2 separate regions of the Homo sapiens genome follow, and region 1 is linked to region 2. Evidence: fine-mapped expression QTL. A gene starts in region 2. The other region holds a variant in brackets. All regions are shown on one strand. Distances are from middle to middle. Region 1 overlaps PSMD4 (proteasome 26S subunit ubiquitin receptor, non-ATPase 4). Region 2 holds the start of RFX5 (regulatory factor X5).

What was found. PIP is the estimated chance that this variant, and not a neighbour inherited with it, causes the effect.
Region 1: its variant is fine-mapped to the expression of RFX5 in whole blood (TOPMed, PIP 0.96).

What each region holds. Positions count from the first base shown.
Region 1 is chr1:151,263,410-151,273,074 of GRCh38, forward strand. It overlaps PSMD4 (proteasome 26S subunit ubiquitin receptor, non-ATPase 4), which reads left to right. Exons shown (of 10, transcript NM_002810.4): 3 at 505-619; 4 at 1,423-1,509; 5 at 1,757-1,825; 6 at 1,985-2,200; 7 at 2,595-2,703; 8 at 2,899-3,030; 9 at 3,111-3,178; 10 at 3,764-4,070. The coding sequence ends at 3,934. Among named protein-coding and RNA genes, the nearest start is that of PSMD4, 14 kb to the left of the region's middle. RefSeq lists a silencer at 2,124-2,418 and an enhancer at 2,124-2,418. The variant T/A (reference allele first, on the strand shown) is at 5,134.
Region 2 is chr1:151,343,343-151,352,864 of GRCh38, forward strand. It overlaps RFX5 (regulatory factor X5), which reads right to left and starts at 3,910. Exons shown (of 11, transcript NM_001025603.2): 1 at 3,869-3,910; 2 at 3,147-3,264; 3 at 2,863-2,991; 4 at 2,586-2,619; 5 at 1,764-1,846; 6 at 1,386-1,505; 7 at 1,075-1,194; 8 at 855-936; 9 at 339-540; 10 at 1-100. The coding sequence starts at 2,978. RFX5-AS1 (RFX5 antisense RNA 1) reads left to right here and starts at 3,668. Exons shown (of 2, transcript NR_131972.1): 1 at 3,668-3,846; 2 at 4,290-4,549. RefSeq lists enhancers at 1-77, 2,743-2,832, 3,172-4,371, 3,426-4,008, 3,975-4,324 and a silencer at 7,858-8,058.

The DNA.
Region 1 (9,665 bases), 80 kb before region 2:
GCTGAGATTCGCCACTGCACGCCAGCCTGGGTGACAGAGCGAGACTCTGTCTCAAAAAATAAAAAAGAAGAATAGAGATTACAATTAGAATAGAAATAATGGTTATTATCCAGGTCTTTAAAGAAAAGTCAGACACAGGCCAGGTGCGGTGGCTCACGCCTGTAATCCCAGCACTTTGGAAGGCCAAGGTGGGCGGATTACGAGGTCAGGAGATCGAGACCATCCTGGCTAACACAGTGAAACCCCGTCTCTACTAAAAAAAATACAAAAAATTAGCCAGGCGTGGTAGTGGGTGCCCGTAGTCCCAGCTACTTGGGAGTCTGAGGCAGGAGAATGGCGTGAACCCGGGAGGCGGAGCTTGCAGTGACCCGAGATCACGCCACGCACTCCAGCCTGGGTGACAGAGTGAGACTCCGTCTAAAAAATAAATAAATAAAAGTTAGACACAGTTTAGAGGTACTTGTGCTGACCTGAATTCACTGAAATGCTTTTCCTACATCCCAGTGACTGTGAAGTGCTGACCACACTCACCCCAGACACTGGCCGTATCCTGTCCAAGCTACATACTGTCCAACCCAAGGGCAAGATCACCTTCTGCACGGGCATCCGCGTGGCCCATGTGAGTCCTACTGGGTTCCCTGGACCTTTCCTCCCTGCTCTGAGGTCCTGCCTCCATCATACTCATTTCTCCCCTGGAATCCTGAGCTAGGACCAGAGCAAGAGAAAGCTAACTTGGAGTAGAAAGGATATGGGGGATGAATCCCAGGGTAGTTGAGGGTTGTGAAGGGAAAAATCCCTAGAATTGAGAATTAAGGCTGGGCGTGGTAGTTCATGCCTGTAATCCCATCACTTTGGGAGGCCAGGGGAGGAGGATTGCTGAAGGCTAGCAGTTCAAGACCAGCCTGGGCACATAGGGAGACCCTGTTTCTCTAAAAAAAAAAAAAAAAAGGCCGGGCGCGGTGGCTCACACCTGTAATCCCAGCACTTTGGGAGGCTAACACGGGCAGATCACCTGACGTCACGAGTTCGAGACCAATCTGGCCAACGTGGTGAAACCCCATCTCTACTGAAAATATAAAAATTAGCCAGTACTAGGAAGGCTGAGGCAGGATAATCGCTGGAACCCGGGAGGTGGAGGTTGCAGTGAACTGAGATCACGCCACTGCACTCCAGACTGGGCGACAGAGCGAGACTCCATCTCAAAAAAAAAAAAAGAGAGAAAGAGAATTAACCTCCCTTCTTTATGCACAGAGAGTCATAGCAAAAAGGGAGGAGGTGGGGGTGTTAAATCTTGTGTGAACGTGATGGTAGATGGTGTACTTCAGGTACAAAGAAACTGTAAGAAAAAGGGAACCGAGTGACAGAGGAAAGAGCTGAGTGATTCCTCTGGTTAACTCTGAGAACTTCCTCTCCCTTTACAAGCTGGCTCTGAAGCACCGACAAGGCAAGAATCACAAGATGCGCATCATTGCCTTTGTGGGAAGCCCAGTGGAGGACAATGAGAAGGATGTGAGTCCAAGTGGCAGCTGGGGAATGTGGGGAGCCCATGTTTGGGACTGAGGTCTTCCAGCCCTCAGGAGAACCTGGCAGAGGCATCAGGCTCATCACTTTGGGGAAAGGTGAATGTGGAGAATTCAGTGATTCTGTTGGAGGACCTTGGGGAGGTCAATAGATTTCTGTATGCTTTTATGCGGCGGGTCCTTTCCCCCCCTCGAGTATGGAACAGATTTCTTGATTTTTCTCCCCTTCTTCCCAGCTGGTGAAACTGGCTAAACGCCTCAAGAAGGAGAAAGTAAATGTTGACATTATCAATTTTGGGGAAGAGGTGAGTAGGGACTGATTGGAGGGCATTGACTTAATTTGGTCATAAACAGAATGGTCCTTAACCCTGAGGAGTGCGGGTACTGTGGCAGAGTAGTGCAGAAATGGGAAAGAACAGGGAGCAAGGCCTGAAGAAGGGCATCATGTGTTCTTTCCTCCCCAGGAGGTGAACACAGAAAAGCTGACAGCCTTTGTAAACACGTTGAATGGCAAAGATGGAACCGGTTCTCATCTGGTGACAGTGCCTCCTGGGCCCAGTTTGGCTGATGCTCTCATCAGTTCTCCGATTTTGGCTGGTGAAGGTGGTGCCATGCTGGGTCTTGGTGCCAGTGACTTTGAATTTGGAGTAGATCCCAGTGCTGATCCTGAGCTGGCCTTGGTGAGCAAATGTTGACCCCAGGTAGAGTCCAAAGGTCCCTCTTTGTTCTCTTCTGGCACACACATCACAGAGCTTCTATCAGGCTGGATAGTCCTAGACACTACCAATCACTCATTTTCCAAGACCTCCTTTTGCCGCCTCTTCCCTATAATGCTGTCTGATCTCTAGGGGCACCAGTGTCAGATGCTTTCTTGTTCACTTCTGATGAAAACCGAGGCTTCTCCCAAGTCCTTACTTTTTAATCCCGTACCACTGCTTATCCCTCCAGCTTCTTCTCTGTGTGATAAACCAGAAGCTGCCCCTTTATGTTCCTTTCCCACACCCCAACTGACTTTCCCAGCTCCCTGTAGGAGTGAGGGCAGGGGAGCCCTGATTATGCCCTGCCCTTCACCAGGCCCTTCGTGTATCTATGGAAGAGCAGCGGCAGCGGCAGGAGGAGGAGGCCCGGCGGGCAGCTGCAGCTTCTGCTGCTGAGGCCGGGATTGCTACGACTGGGACTGAAGGTGAAAGAGGTGGAATCCGAAGTCCTGGGACTGCGGGATGCTAAACATTGAAAGCTGGGTGTAGGCACTGCAGGGAGAGTGTGGAGGTCTGACAGGGTAGGAATATGTGGGAGGGCTGGGCTAGGAATGGCCTTGGAGGCTGGCCTGTGTGGATATGGCACCAATTCTACCCTGCTCCTCTTTTCCTTTTCCCAGACTCAGACGATGCCCTGCTGAAGATGACCATCAGCCAGCAAGAGTTTGGCCGCACTGGGCTTCCTGACCTAAGCAGTATGACTGAGGAAGAGCAGATTGCTTATGCCATGCAGATGTCCCTGCAGGGAGCAGGTGAGCCAGAGCCTGGGTGGTGCCTAGGCAGAGGTTGGGGTGAGGAAGTGTAACTGAACAGACTGACCTCTCTTCCTCAGAGTTTGGCCAGGCGGAATCAGCAGACATTGATGCCAGCTCAGCTATGGACACATCTGAGCCAGCCAAGGTGAGACCCAACCCTGCCCCCATCAGGTTTAAAGTCCTTGAATTTAGATCCTCATCCCTCTGGGGCTGGGAGTATTTCTACCATAGCTAAGTCCTTTGAGGAGCAGAGGGAAACACATGGATTTGCATTTCTTACATGTAAACCTTGCTAAGGTAGCAATGCTAATGGTCAGAGTTGGAGAAATGTCCTCTTGTTCTGTAATTTTCCTTTCTTGCTGGTGGGAGCAGCCTGGGCAGTTCTCTAGGATGTCTTCCCAGGAGGGAAAAAAGCGGGTCTGGGAAAAAGAAAAAGGAGAACTGGGTGTCTTGAGAGCAGGAAACCTCAATGTGATGGCATCTGTTTTTCTCCTCAGAGCTCAATTAACAGAGTTCTCAGCAGGCCCCTCTATTTGGTTAGTAATAACTGCATTCATGCTGTATAAAGGATTTTGCTGACTTGTCCTTTCCTTACGTCGACCAGAGGTGCCCAGATCCCCACACAGTCAGAAGGCAGGGGGCCTCTGGCAGCGGCATGCTCCTGTCCTTAACACCTGCTTACTTCCTGCCGCTCCATACCCTCCCTTGAGCTCACACTGCCTGTTTGCAGGAGGAGGATGATTACGACGTGATGCAGGACCCCGAGTTCCTTCAGAGTGTCCTAGAGAACCTCCCAGGTGTGGATCCCAACAATGAAGCCATTCGAAATGCTATGGGCTCCCTGGCCTCCCAGGCCACCAAGGACGGCAAGAAGGACAAGAAGGAGGAAGACAAGAAGTGAGACTGGAGGGAAAGGGTAGCTGAGTCTGCTTAGGGGACTGCATGGGAAGCACGGAATATAGGGTTAGATGTGTGTTATCTGTAACCATTACAGCCTAAATAAAGCTTGGCAACTTTTTTTCCTTTTTTGCTTCAAATATTGATGGTTTTGAGTGTGAGAGAGGGGAGGAGTCCCTGGCCTGAAGGAGAACCTTCCTTGTTGAGTTCTCTATGTCTCTGTTTCCACCTGTCTGGGCCTCCTAACGTGCTGGGATTACAGGCCCAGGAGCCAGGTTTCCATTTCTAATGAACGAAGACCTTATTTAAACCACCTTCTTGCCAATAACTTTTACTCTGCACTCACACAGCTGAACCCCAAGCATGGAATGATACTCAACCTTTTCAGTTTTTTCATGTGGACTTCTGAGGTTCAGCAAGTTTAGGTTATTTGGCCAAGGATATTTAGCTAATGAAGAGGCAGAACCAGGATCAAAATCCAAACTTGTCTCAGACCTGTCTCGCCAGGAGTTGAATCACCACCAAACAGTAGTTTCCCATTGGTCAGCTGCCTTCAGTGACTCTGCTCAGCCCTGCAAGTCAGTTCCTTGTAGCAACTACTATACCTTCCTCTACTCCCCGATCACTCTCAACAGAAGCCTGACATCTTTACAGAGAGTCAAGGCCGTGAGGCAGGAAGTTCTGGCTCCCTCCCTCCTGCCAGCACCTCCCTGCATCAGTTATGCTGTCTCCTGAGTCTCTGCTGTCCTAAACACCCTGCTGGCGTTTTCCTCTCAGTGTACATGCATAAAATCCACTCTACAAGTAACCTTACCTTGAGACTTTATATTATACGGTTTAAATATTATTTTACAAGGAACATCTATTCCCTTTATAATTTTTTTTAAAGTTTTTTTTTTTTTCAGCCAGGTGCGGTGGCTCACACCTGTAATCCCAGCACTTTGGGAGGCCGAGGTGGGCAGATCACAAGGTCAGGAGTTTGAGACCAGCCTGACCAATATGGTGAAACCCCGTCTCTACTAAAAATAGAAAAAAAATTAGCCGGGTGTGGTGGCACACGCCTGTAATTCCAGCTACTCAGGAGGCTGAGGCAGGAGAATTGCTTGAACCCAGGAGGCGGAGGTTGCAGTGAGCTGAGATCATGCCACTGCATTCCAGCCTGGGCGACAGAGGGAGACTCTCAAAAAATAAAAAATTAAAAAA[T/A]ATATATATATATTTTTATTTATTTTAAACAAAGTCTGTGCTCTGTCACCCAGGCTGGGGTGCAGTGGTGTGATCATAGCTCACTGTAGCCTCAACCTCCTAGCCTAAAGGATCCTCCTGCCTCAGCCTCCTGCATAGCTGGGACTAAGGCACACACTACCACGCCCAGCTAATTTTTTTTTTTTTTTTTTGAGATGGAGTCTGTCGCACAGGCTGGAGTGCAGTGGCACTGTCTTGGCTCACTGCAACCTCTGCCCCCCAGGCTCAAGCAGTTCTCATGCCTCAGCCTCGCAAGTAGCTGGGACTATAGGTATGTACCACCATGCCTGGCTAATTTTTAATTTTTTTTATAGATATGCGGTCTATGTTTCCCAGGCTGGTCTTGAACTCCTGGGCTCAAGTGATCCTCCCACCTCGGCCTCCCAAAGTGCTGGGATTATAGGTGTGAGCCACCGTGCCTGGCCTATATAGTTTTAAAAGTTAGATTTGTAATAAAAATTGGTAGGGTCCTGCCCTACCCCTCTGCACTCTTGAGGTCTACTCCCAGAAGTAATCAATTTAACTTCTTTAGCTAGCTCTTCCTGTGCTTACTTCCTTATTCCCAAAGAATGAACTTATATGGCTATTTCTTAATTTTTCCATTTTAGCCATTATCTATACTGTTTACTATAGAATATTATAATTTAGTTTTTTTTTTGTTTTCGAGGCAGAGTTTCGCTCTTGTTGCCCAGGCTAGAGTGCAATGGCACGATCTCTGCTCACTGCAACCTCCGCCTCCTGGGTTCAAGCGATTCTCCTGCCTTAGCCTCCCAAGTAGCTGGGATTACAGGCATGTGCCACCACACCCGTCTAATTTTTTTATTTTTGGTAGAGACGGTTTCATCATCTTGGCCAGGCTGGTCTTGAACTCCTGACCTCGTGATCTACCTGCCTCGGCCTCCTGAAGTGCTGGGATTACAACGCCTGACTAATTTTTATATTTTTTTTGTAGAGACGGGGTTTCGCCAGGTTACCTAGACTGGTCGTGAGCTCAAGCAATCTGCCCACCTCAGCCTCCCAAAGTGCTGGAATTATAGGCCTGAACCACCACACCTAGCATTTTTTTTTTTTTTTTTTTTTTTGAGACGGAGTCTTGCTCTGTCACCCAGGCTGGAGTGCAGTGGCATGATCTTGGCTCACTGCAAGCTCCGCCTCCCGGGTTCACGCCATTCTCCTGCCTCAGCCTCCCGAGTAGCTGGGACTACAGGCGCCCGCCACCACGCCCGGCTAATTTTTTGGATTTTTAGTAGAGATGGGGTTTCACCGTGTTAGCCAGGATGGTCTGGATCTGACCTTGTGATCCGCCCGCCTCGGCCTCCCAAAGTGCTGGGATTACAGGCTTGAGCCACCACCTCCCAAAGTGCTGGGATTACAGGCTTGAGCCACCACGCCCGGCCCATTGTTTTTGTTTTTATTCTTTTACCATGAGAAATAGAAACCTCCTCTCATTGGTCAAATACAGTAGGTAACCTGTTAACCTCACGTGATGGCCTCCTGAGCTTGCTCCAATGTGGATTGGTTGTCCTCGACCTGCTGCAAAGTTTTAGTTCTGGCCCTTCCCTGCACCTTCACCCTGGGACTCACTTATTTCCTGGATGCCATATTTTGGTTTTCCTTTGTTTCATCCTCTGTTTTAGTAGAATTTGTCATCCAGTAGCTTTCTGAGAAAGGAGCACAGCAAGTTTATTTTTTGTGTGTCTGAAAACATCTTGGCAGAGTATAGAATTCTACATTTAAAATAATGTTTCTTTAGAATTTTGAAGGCATTGCCTCATTGTTTTCAGTTTTCTTCTTGTTTGTTTTTTCTTTTTCTCAATGTTTCAGCATCCAGAGGAATGCTTGTTGGTGTTGAGACAGGGTCTCACTTTGTCACCCAGGCTGCAATGCAGTGGCAGGAACACGGCTCAGGCTGACTGCCGCCGCTACCTCTGAGGCTCAAGCAGTCCTCTTGCCTCACTATCTCAACTGTCTAGGACTACAGGTGCATGCCACAACACCCATCTGGTTTTTGTATTTTTTGTAGAGATGGTGGTTTTTGTATTTTTTGTAGAGATGGTGTTTCACCACGTTGCCCAGGCTGGTCTGGAACTCCTGACCCTAAGTGATCTGCCCACCTCGGCCTCCCAAAGTGCTGAGATTACAGGCATGAGCCACCTTGCCCATGGCCTGTATTCTAGTTTTCAGGGTGTATTATTAAGAAACCAGGGCTGGGTGTGATAGCTCATGCTTGTAATCCCAGCACTTTGGGAGGCCAAGGCGGGAGGATAACTTGAGCCCAGGAGTTCAAGACCAGTCTGGGGAACATGGCAAGACCCCATTCCCCCACATTTTCTTAATTAAAAACAAAAAAACAAAAAAAGTTAGCTGGCTGTGGTGCAGTGCACCTATAGTTCTAGCTACTCATGAGGCTGAGGTGGGAGTATCACTTGAGCTAAGGGGTCCAGGCTGCAATGAGCAGTGATCACGTTACTGTACTCTAGCCTGGGCAACAGAGCAAGACTGTCCCAAAAAACAAACAAAAAAAGCATCCTGTTTTTGTATCATGGGTGCAATATCTTCTATTTCTTTTCTTTTTTTTTTTTTTTTTTTTTGATACAGAGTCTTTTTCTGTCACCCAGGCTGGAGTGCAGTGGCATGATCTCAGCTTACTGCAACCTCTGCCTCCGGGGTTCAAGCAATTCTCCTGCCTCAGCCTCCCGAGTAGCTGGGACTACAGGCATGTGCCACCACGCCCAGCTAATTTTTGTATTTTTAGTATAGACAGGGTTTCACCATCTTGGCCAAGTTGGTCTTGAACTCCTGTCCTCATGATCTACCTGCCTCAACCTCCCAAAGTGCTGGGATTACAGGTGTGAACCACCACGCCCAGCCAATCTTATATTTCTAAGTATAGTCATTGCAGTTTTAGGATATTTTCTTCCGGTCCCTTCATTATCTGTTACTCTCTGGGCTCCTCCTCTTTTGGCTTCTTTTATGTTGGAGGCTGCCTTCAACTCTCAGATGATCCTTGGCTGTCTGTCCCCACTTAAGAGAGAGCTGCCTGGAAACTCCATGGGTGGGGTGAGCAGAGACCGTCATATGTGGGCCTCCCTGGGAGTAAGGAGGGAGGGAGCAGCATTTGAGTTCCTGTTGGCTTCTTCTCCTGAGTCAGTCATTATCTCCAACAAGGAATTTTCCAATCTTCCTTCCCCTGCTTTCAGAGGCCCAAGGACTTTTCTGTTTTTGAGCCTTTTTGGGATCTAAGACTGATTATTTTGTTCTTTGTTGGCTCTTCACTCCCTACATTATGAGTAGAATGGAAAAATCCCCAAACTTAAGTCAGTTATCCTGCACATCTGGCTTTCTGCACATCCTGTGCAGAAATCCTGTGTCAGTTATCTGCACATCTGTATCAAACTAAATCAGTCTCTCATTTGCTGTAGTCTTCTCTTTGTCCTTGTGCTTTTTCATGTCTTATTATTTATTTATTTATTTGTTTATTTATTTATTTTTGAGACGGAGTCTCGCTCTGTCACCCAGGCTGGAGTGCAGTGGTACGATCTCGGCTCACTGCAAGCTCCGCCTCCCGGGTTCACGCTATTCTCCTGCCTCAGCCTCTTGAGTAGCTGGGACTACAGGCGCCTGCCACCACGCCTGGCTAATTTTTTGTATTTTTAGTAGAGACGGGGTTTCACTGTGTTAGCCAGGATGGTCTCGATCTCCTGACCTCATGATCCACCCGCCTCGGCCTCCCAAAGTGCTGGGATTACAGGCATGAGCCACCGCGCCCGGCTATTTTTTATTTTTCAGACAGGGTCACTTTTTTGCCCAGGCTGCAGCGCAGTTGGGCCATCATGGCTCACTGCAGTCTTGGCCTCCCAGGCTCAGGTGATCCTCCTACCTTAGCCTCCCCAGTAGCTGGGACTACAGGCACGTGCCACCATGCCTGCCCTTTTTCACTTCTTTACTCTTATTTTGACGTGATTTCTAGGGTGAGCAGAGATAAGCTCAATTCACCACATATAACCAGAAGCTCTTTACTTCTTTAAGATCAATTACCTAATTCCTCTAACTCACAAGGTGGTCGTGAAAATTAAAGGTGGCGGGCAACCCGCTTGGGTCCCCTACTGTAGAAGCTTTGTTCTTTCGCTCTTTGCAATAAATCTTGCTGCTGCTCACTCTTTGGGTCCACACTGCCTTTATGAGGTGTAACACTCACCACGAAGGTCTGCAGCTTCACTCCTGAAGCCAGCGAGACCACGAACCCACCGGGAGGAACGAACAACTCCAGATGCGCCGCCTTAAGAGCTGTAACACTCACCGCGAAGGTCCGTGGCCTCACTCCTGAGCCCCCAAGACCACGAACCCACCAGAAGGAAGAAACTCCAAACACATCCGAACATCAGAAGGAACAAACTCTGGACACGCTGACTTTAAGAACTGTAACACTCACCGCGAAGGTCTGCGGCTTCATTCTTGAAGTCAGTGAGACCAAGAACCCACCAATTCCGGAC
Region 2 (9,522 bases):
TGGGCCAGTCTCTCTGGCTTCTTGTGGGCTCCACCCTCTGGGTTCTCTAAACCATTCTTTGGTTTAGATGACCGTTCCCGAGGTGCATGTTCGTCCTCTTCTGCAGAGGTACCAAAAAGGTAATAGAGTGAAGGTGAGGAGGAAACTGAGGAATAGGGGAGTGAGGCAATTCTGATTGACTGACTGGTAGAGACAGGAAATGGGGTGCTAAAGCATGTCTTAGAAGGGTCTCCAGGAAGAGGGGGCAAATCCAAGGTGTCTCTATTCTAGTGTGTGGGAGGGCCACTGAAGCTGAAAGTGGCTCAGGGTTGCTGAGACATAAGAGAGGGTCAACACACCAGCGAGCCCCATGGCCTTAAGCACATGGGCATGTGCAGATCGGGCAGAGATGAGATGCTGCTGTAGCAGGAAGCGGGCGACCTCAACGATGGAACTGAAGGACCGTTTCAGGATCCGCTCTGCCCAGTCACAGGTCAGGGCACACGCTGCCTCCACCAGTTCATCTCGAGGTGCTGGGGTTACTTCTGGGCCCATTTCTGGCTGAAGTGGGGAAGGACATGCCCAATCACACTCCAAATTAAAGAACCCTTGCCTCCTCTCTTGTCAGAGATCAAAGACTATTGACCAAAGCTGAGACCAGACTGGGGATGGGAGTAGCCTCTACCTATCCCATTGCAGAAGCCCACAAGTTCTCTTCATCCTCTGCCTCAGCTACAGGGTTGGCAGAAGGGAACATCATACCTAGAAGCTATGTACATAATGACTGAGGCTGTTAGCCCTCAAAACATGCCCCAAAGACCTCTGACTTTTACCTGGGAGAGAAGAGTGGAATTGGAAGGTGATTTGGTACTTACACTCTCAGAACCCTTTAGGTCAAGTCCAGGCAGGGGTGGCATAGACACCAAGGTCTTCCTCCTTATGCCACTGTAGCAATATCTGATGCAAGTTAAAGAGCAGCCAACACATGGCGATCTCCAAGCCCCTCGAGCAAGTTAAGCTGTTCCACTCCTTGCTCTCCACATCCTAAGTCTTCCTCCCAGGTCCTCCACCCCCAACCTCTCTAGTCAAGGATACTTGGACTGGCCCCGGCCACCAAGCCTTCGAGCTTTGATGTCAGGGAAGATCTCTCTGATGATCTTGCCAAAGTTGGCTGTGCTGAGTGGGCGGCAACAGGCAAGACTCTCACAGTACTTCCTGAGTGAGAGGGGAGCAGAGTGGGAAGATACTCAGAGAAGGAGGCCATGGGTAGGCTCGAAGAGTCCCTAGGGATCAAGTGTGAGGAACCCTTTAAGAAGGCAGGCTTTATCAAGGCAGGAAGCTCTTCATGGGTGAGGGGGTCCTATGCCCACCAATCCACTCATCCCACCACCCACCCCTCCACCCACCGATAGGCATCATAAACACTTTGCTTTGGCAGACAGGTGTCAGTGTGCTCTTCCAGGTGGTTGCGGATCCACCTATAGGCATACATGTACTCCTCATTGCTCAGTGTACTTGGCTCTGAGCTACAGAAACAAAAGGAACAAGCATTACTAAGACCCTAACAGTTGTCCTGGTTCTTCCCAAACTACCACTTCAGTAGTGCTGGACCAAATTTAGTTCACCCAGAATCTAACTTTCCCTGGTAAACCAAGTCAGGGCGAGGACCTTTCCTCTTCATCAAGGACAGCATTTACGAGTATTCCTATTCACCTCACCCCTTCCCAGTGAACCTTTCTCTAAGAATCAGAACCTCTGCCATCTAAAACTACTATCAAACCTACCTTTTGTCTCCAGTGGTGGGTCCTGAGGGGAGCTGAAGGTAGAGATACAGCTTGTCATTGTCAGAAAATTTCTGTACATCTTGCTGAGGTAGGAGAGAACAGAGGCAGGAGAAATAATAAGGCCAAGAAGGACCCAATATAGGACCCTCTGATCCCCACACCAAAGTCTAGCTGACTTACAGGGTGTCAGACTGAAAAAGGACCTTAGAAATTATTTGACAAGGCCGGGCACGGTGGCTCACGCCTACAATCCCAGCACTTTGGAAGGCCAAGGCAGGCTGATCACAAGGTCAGGAGATCGAGACCATCCTGGCTAACATGGTGAAACCCCGTTTCTACTAAAAATACAAAAAAAAATTAGCTGGGTGTGGTGACGGGCGCCTGTAGTCCCAGCTACTTGGGAGGCTGAGGCAGGAGAATGGCGTGAACCTGGGAGGCGGAGCTTGCAGTGAGCCGAGATTGCGCCACTGCACTCCAGCCTAGGCGACAGAGTGAGACTCCATCTCAAAAAAAAAAAAAAAAAAGAAAGAAATTATTTGATGCTAGGTGCTCTGAGGAGCCCTATAGGCTACCATGGAGAGGAGGGAAGTAGAGGGGATCAGCTCTGACTTCATCTCTGCTGGGCTTCTATGCAAGTGCTCACAGAGATCAAGTGAGAGGCACAAAGTCAAACTGGCAGCAAGTTTGCAAAGCCAACTATCTTCTGACAAGGCAGAGGACCCTACCTCTCCCACATCAATGTTTTGTTGATGCCCATCATCCTCACATCCTCCTCCCTCAGCATTTCCATCCCTCTCTTGCCCTCTTCCCCAACACACTTACCAGGATCCCCTCTACTTTGTTCTGCACGGCCTTGCTGTGGGGAAGAGGAGAAAGCTGGAGGTCACACACAAGATTTTCCCTGTCTCTTTATCTGACTGCTAGGGAGGGAAAAGGACTGAAATGCCCAGCAGGTGCTCAAGAATTGCTACCATGGCCAAAAATCTCCCTCTGCTCCCATGCCCTTGCTGAGAGGCAGTTCATCTACAGCCAAAGTGAAGTGCTGCAGGGATCTATACTCAGGTCTTGGACAGGACTTGGAGATGTGATGAGTACTTACGAAATGGTACCTCGGAGCCTCTGAAGAAGGGTGGTAGGTTCCCCAGCCTCAGCACCACCTGGGGGGGCCCTTCCCCCAGTCTTGGGGCTCTTAGCATCAGGCTCATCTTCTGCCATCCCGGCATGAGGGCTAGAATTGAGAGGGACAGGCATAAAGATGTAACTCACACTGGCCTTCCCTTCCCCAGAAGGCCCCAGGGCACTCCTCATCTCTTTACCCAGAAAGGCAGAGAAACAGAAACAAAGCCTCCGAATTTCCCCGGTGGTCTTTTTCTCACCACTTGCCTTCTCCGAAAATTAGAAATTATTCCATTACTTCGCCAGGCCCATATATGCCCAAAGAGATCTTTGCCATCTCCATTCTATCTGCCCCACCTTTCTGAAGTCTCCTAAATCTGGAAAACTGTAAAGGAAGAGATAGGGGGATTGGGAATCCATGTTAGCAAGAAATTTTCATTTCTGCCTCTGACCCCATACTGCCCTCCTCCCCCTCAAAAACAACAATAACAGCCACAAAACAAAGTTCTCTAATTCTCAAAAATACTCCTCACCATTGCATATGCCTGGGAGGTCAGAAAGGATACGAACATATTCTGCCCTTCTAGGCTTGGAAAAAAAACTGGGCCCAAGTTCTCATTACTTAATCTCGCCACGACTTCCCCCGCTGCTCCCCCTCCCCACGTCGCCGGCCCCTACGTCATCTCCCACAACAGCCCATCCTGAGGCGCGCCCCCACCTCCTTCCCTTCCCCCTCCATTCAATCCCCGGTTTCTGCAAAGTGGAGCGGGGGTGGGGCGGGGTAGCGGAACTCATGCGCTGGGCGTCAGAAACCCGGCAGGGGAATGGGGTCCCAGATTCCGGGCACGTGCACATGGGTGAAGAAGCTGTTGAAAATACAGCTACAATCTTTTTCTGCTCTCCTCCCAACTCATCTTGCCCCTCCCTACCTCTGAACAGTCGCCTTCCAACACAAGCAACAATAAAGGTAAGGGAGAAAGAGAAACTACCTCGTAGCCACCTTCACTCCAGCCCAGCCCCAAGGTCCTGGCCCAGCCGGCTCGTGCGTTGCTTTATTTTCCTTTTTCTGAATGGTTGTAACAGCCGCGATCTGCCTAGATACACGGGCGGCCTGCTCTGTCATTGGTCACTGCTGCCACCCGGAGACAGAAGGCGCCGGGCTCGTACCGGCGGCCGCTGAAGTCTGCCTGGTAACAGAATCTGATTGGTCAATAGGGGAGGGAAAATCCAAAGTTGGTCTTATTTGAGTCAAGAGGGGGAAGTCCGGGTTGGGTTTCGGTTAAAACTGGGGTCGGTTGGGACTGCAGGTCCCAAGAGGTTCTTCTCTTAAAGGGACCGCAGGATGAAAGAACGGGCGCTCGGCTCCCTTTGGAACTGTCTTTTCTTTTGCCCTCCCCTTTTGTGTTTCAGTTTAGTCTACGGTCCTCAGAGCTGCCGGAAGAGAAGAATCAATGGATGATAAAATAACTAGACAATGATGGGTAGGAGTGATGGAAGTTCACTGTAAGCTCCTATAACCCCCCATCACCATCACCACATGCCTAATACAACCTGCAGACACACTTACTCGCAACAGACCTGCAATCTGGGCTCTCTTTTCCTTCTTGATGGAGGCCTCAAAACCTCAGCAGTTGTACCCATTAAACTAAAATGCTTTTTCCCTCTTAGTATTTCTTGGTTTCCCGTGTGTACTTTACTTCCAAAGAGTTGCAAATGCATTTGCATCCCCATAGTTCTGCAGTCGGTGAACCCTGGAATTTTGATGGACTCCCACGGGGGTGCTGGATGCCACAGGAACTTTTTACACTCAGGGAACATTGTACTGAATAGGTCATGGGTTCTTAACCCTCTTACTTAAGACATTTTAAGGTTATGAATCAGACAAAAGCAATGGACCCTCTACCATGAAAAATGCACACAGAGACCAAGTTTTGCATCTAATTTCAGAGAGGTCATGGACTCCAGGTTGAAAGCCTCTTACATGGATGTATTTTGTTTTGCGCAGCGGTCATGTTACAACCAAAACTGTATTTGCCATCCTGACATCTAATATGTTCTCCAGGCTCATCATTAATGTGCTTTTGTAAAGAAGACAGTAGTGCTGCCTGAGCTCATCACCATTGCCCTTTACAGCCTACCTTTCCCTATTATCAGCTTCTATGAGTGCTGGGGGAACCCAGGAGATTGTGGAGTTGGGGCAATAAGGATATATTGGCAAGAGGTTTTCTTTTTTCTTTCTTTCTTTCTTTTTTTTTTTTCTTTGAGACGGAGTCTCGCTCTGTTGCCCAGGCTGGAGTGCAATGGCACGATCTTGGCTCACTGCAACCTCCGCCTCCTGGGTTCAAGCGATTCTCCTGCCTCACCCTCCCGAGTAACTGGGTTTACAGACGTGCATCACCACGCCCAGATAATTTTTGTGTTTTTAGTAGAGACGGAGTTTCACCATGTTGGTCAGGCTGGTCTCAAACTCCTGACTTCAGGTGATCCACCTGCCTTGGCCTCCCAAAGTGCTGGGATTACAGGTGTGAGCCACTGCACCTGGCCAGGTTTTCTAATAACAGCTAAAATTTATTTGGTGTTTATTAGGCCAGGCGCGGTGGCTCACGCCTGTAATCCCAAAACTTTGGGAGGCTGAGGTGGGCGGATCACCTAAGGTTGGGAGTTCGAGACCAGCTTGACCAACATGAAGAAACCCCGTCTCTACTAAAAATACAAGATTAGCCGGGCGTGGTGGCGCATGCCTGTAATCCCAGCTACTCGGGAGGCTGAGGCAGGAGAATCACTTGAACTGGGGAGGCGGAGGATTGTGCCATTACACTACAGCCTGGCAACAAGAGCGAAACTCCGTCTCAAACAAAAACAAACAAAAATTTATTTGGTGTTTATTAGGTATCAGACACCATACCAAATGCTAAACACCTCGTGTAATGCTCACAGCAACTCTCTGAAGTAGGTACTGTTACTGTCTCCATTTTACAGATGAGGAAACCAATGTGGAGAGGTGAAGGGACTTGTCCTTAGTCATATATGTAGAAAGTGCTAGAATCAGGATCCAAAGGCAGGCAGTCTGCCTCAAAGCTGATTGTTTTGAGCACTGCCTTAGACTGCATGTATACATATTTGCAGATACTCATAAATAAATATGGGTATAACGGGCTGGACATGATGGCTCATGCCTATAATCTCAATACTTTGGGAGGCAAAGGCAAGAGGATTGCTTGGGGCCAGGAGTTTGAGACCAGCCTGGGCAACAAAGTGAGACTCTGTCTCTCTCTAAACACACACACACACACACACACACACACACACACACACACACACACACACCACACACAGCCAGGTGTGGTGGTACATGCCTGTGGTTCCAGCAACTTGGGAGGCTGAAGCAGGAGGATCACTATTACCCATGAGTTCGAGGCTGCAGTGAGCTATGATTGCACCACTCTGTCGTGCAGCCTGGGTGACAGAGTAAGACCCTGTCTCAAAACAAACAAACAAACAAAAAACAAAAAAAAAGCCGGCTGGTGTGGTGGCTCATGCCTATAATCCCAGCACTTTGGGAGGCTGAGGTGGGCAGATCACCTGAGGTCAGTTTGAGACCAGCCTGACCAACATGGAGAAACCCCGTCTCTACTAAAAACAAAAAACAAAAAACAAAACAAAAAACAAAACAAAATTAGCCAGTCGTGGTGGTGCATGCCTGTAATCCCAGCTACTTGGCAGGCTGAGGCAGGAGAATTGCTTGAACCTGGGAGGCGGAGGTTGGGTGAGCCGAGATCATGCCATTGCACTCCAGCCTGGGCAACAAGAGCGAAACTCCATCTCTAAATAAATAAATAAATAAATAGCAAGCCAAATATGGATATAGACTGATGGAAAGATAGCCCTAACACCACTGTTTGGTATGAAGGAGAACCTAGAGCACTTTGGTTGCAAACAGAGTTTTGGGTAAGTTATCTAGCTTAAAAATTTGCAGATAACAGGGAAAAACTGGAAGCTTTAGTAAGGGGGGAGAAAGTATCATAGTACATAGTACCTAGTAAAAGAGATGATTTTGACAGCACTATAGAAGGTAGAGTTGAGTGAAAGAAAAGGCTAGAGATAGGAAAGAGGAAACTATTAATTTATGCCAGGCATTGTGTTAAGAGCTAGGGATACAAAGCTGAATAAGGTATGGTCCTTGCCTTGGGCAGTAACAATAAAAATTGTCCGGATAAGCATCATATAACAGCAAGTATTTATACAGAGCCTAATATGTGTTGGGGCCCGTTCTTTTTTTTTTCGAGACGGATTCTTGCTCTGTCACCCAGGCTGGAGAGCAGTGGCGCAATCTCGGCTCACTGCAAGCTCTGCCTCCCAGGTTCAAGTGATTCTCCTGCCTCAGCCTCACAAGTAGCTGGGACTACAGGCGCCTGCCACCACACCGGGCTAATTTTTTTGTATTTTTAATAGAAACGGGGTTTCACCATGTTAGCCAGGATGGTCTCTATCTCCTGACCTCGTGATCCGCCCGCCTCAGCCTCCCAAAGTGCTGGGATTACAGGCGTGAGCTACCGCGTGCGGCCTCAGATAGATACTATGATTATCCCCATTTTACAGGTGAGGAGACAGGCATTGAAAGGTTAATAATTTGCCCAAGATTACATCATAATTTAGTAAGCTATGGAGCCAGGATCTGCACCTAGGCTCTTTGCGTTGCAGCTTTTTTTTTTTTTCCTTTTTAGACAGAGTCTCACTCTGTCATCCAGGCTGTAGTGCAGTGGCTCCACTGCACTTGGCTCACTGCAACCTCTGCCTCCCAGGTTCAAGTGATTTTCCTACCTCAGCCTCCTGAGTAGCTGGGATTACAGGCGTGTGCCACCACACCTGGCTAATTTTTGTATTTTTAGTAGAAATGGGGTCTCACCATTTTGGCCAAGCTAGTCTTGAGCTCCTGACCTCAAATGATCCACCCACCTTGGCTTCCAAAAGTGCTGGGATTATAGGCGTGAGCCACCATGCCTGGCCTGTTGCAGCTTTTTCACTCTTGCTGTTTGGAGAGTGGGAGGGAGTGTTCCAGCATTTTCACTTCAACTGCTGGTGGACTCTGTATTCTTGTCCCACGACCAAGAAGAATAAGGTGTGTAGACACTGGAGAGTGAGTAAGGCAGTCAGATTTATTTATTTATTTACTTATTTATTTTATTATTTTTTTTGAGATGGGGGAGTCTCACTCTGTCACCTGAACTGGAGTGCAGTGGCATGATCTTGGCTCACTGCAACCTCCGCCTCCCGGGTTCAAGCGATTCTCTTGCCTCAGCCTCCCAAGTAGCTAGAACTGTAGGTGCCTGCTACCACACCCAGCCAATATTTTGCTTTTTGTTTTTTTTTTGGCGGGGGGGCGATGGAGTTTCACTCTGTTACCAAGCTGGAGTGCAGTGGCACAATCTTGGCTCACTGCAACCTCCACCTCCTGGGTACAAACAATTCTCCTGCCTCAGCCTCCCAGGTAGCTGAGATTACAGGCGCCTGCCACCATGCCCAGCTAATTTTTGTATTTTTAGTAGAGATGGTGTTTCACCATGTTGTCCAGGACGGTCTCAATCTCTTGACCTCATGATCTGCCCGTCTTGGCCTCTCAAAGTGCTGGGATTACAGGTGTGAGCCACCGAACCTGGCTAATTTTTTGTATTTTTAGTACAGACGGGGTTTCACCATGTTGGCCAGGCTGGTCTCAAACTCCTGACCAGCCAGAGTCAGATTTATTAAGCAACAGAAAAGCTCTCAGCAAAGAGGGGGCCTGAAAGAGGATTGCCAGCTATGAGGCTGAGTGGGAGGGTGAGGAGGGTGGCTTATGGACTGGGAAAGGGAGGAGTGTGCTGATCGGGCCTGCAGGCTATCTTGCAGAAAGCACCACTCAGAAAGAGGTATGATAGTGTAAAGAACCAGTTGGAGGCAGAAGTGAAGGCTTGGCTCAACAACTTGGCCTGGAACCAAGTCAGGGGCTGAAGTGAAAGCTTGGGCCAGGACCTTGGCCTGGAACCAATCAGGGGCTGAAGTGATGATTCACCCTATGTAAATGAAGACTCCCGCTGTGGCCAATCACAGAAAGGTAAGCATATGTAAAATAGATGAAAACTAAGAGACTAAGGTGTGCCAAAGAGAGTGAAATATGTCCAAAAAGGGAGTGGTATTTGTTCATCTGGGTTCCTAGAGTAGGTATTTCCATTCCAGGATGCGGGCTGTCACTTATCTGGGGCCTGCAGTTTAATTTTCAGGCTGTTCTTTGTTTGAAGGAGTTTTACCAAGGACCCACCTTAACTGCCTGCCTGACTGGTTTCTTCTTTCTCCTCTCTCATTTCATTCAGAATTTGCTCTTGGACACTATTATACATTGCCTACTAAGATTGGGAGTGAATTTTTTTTTTATTTTTTAAGACAGTGTCTTGCTTTCTCACGCAGGCTGGAGTGCAGCAGCACAAGCTCGGCTCACTGCAACCTCCACCTCCCGAGTTCAAGCAATACTCCTGCCTCAGCCTTCCGAGTAGCTGGGATTACAGGCACGTGTCACCACACACGGCTAATTTTTTATATTTTTGGTAGAGATGGGATTTCACCATGTAGGCCAGGCTGGTCTTGAACTCCTGACCTCAAGTGATCTGCC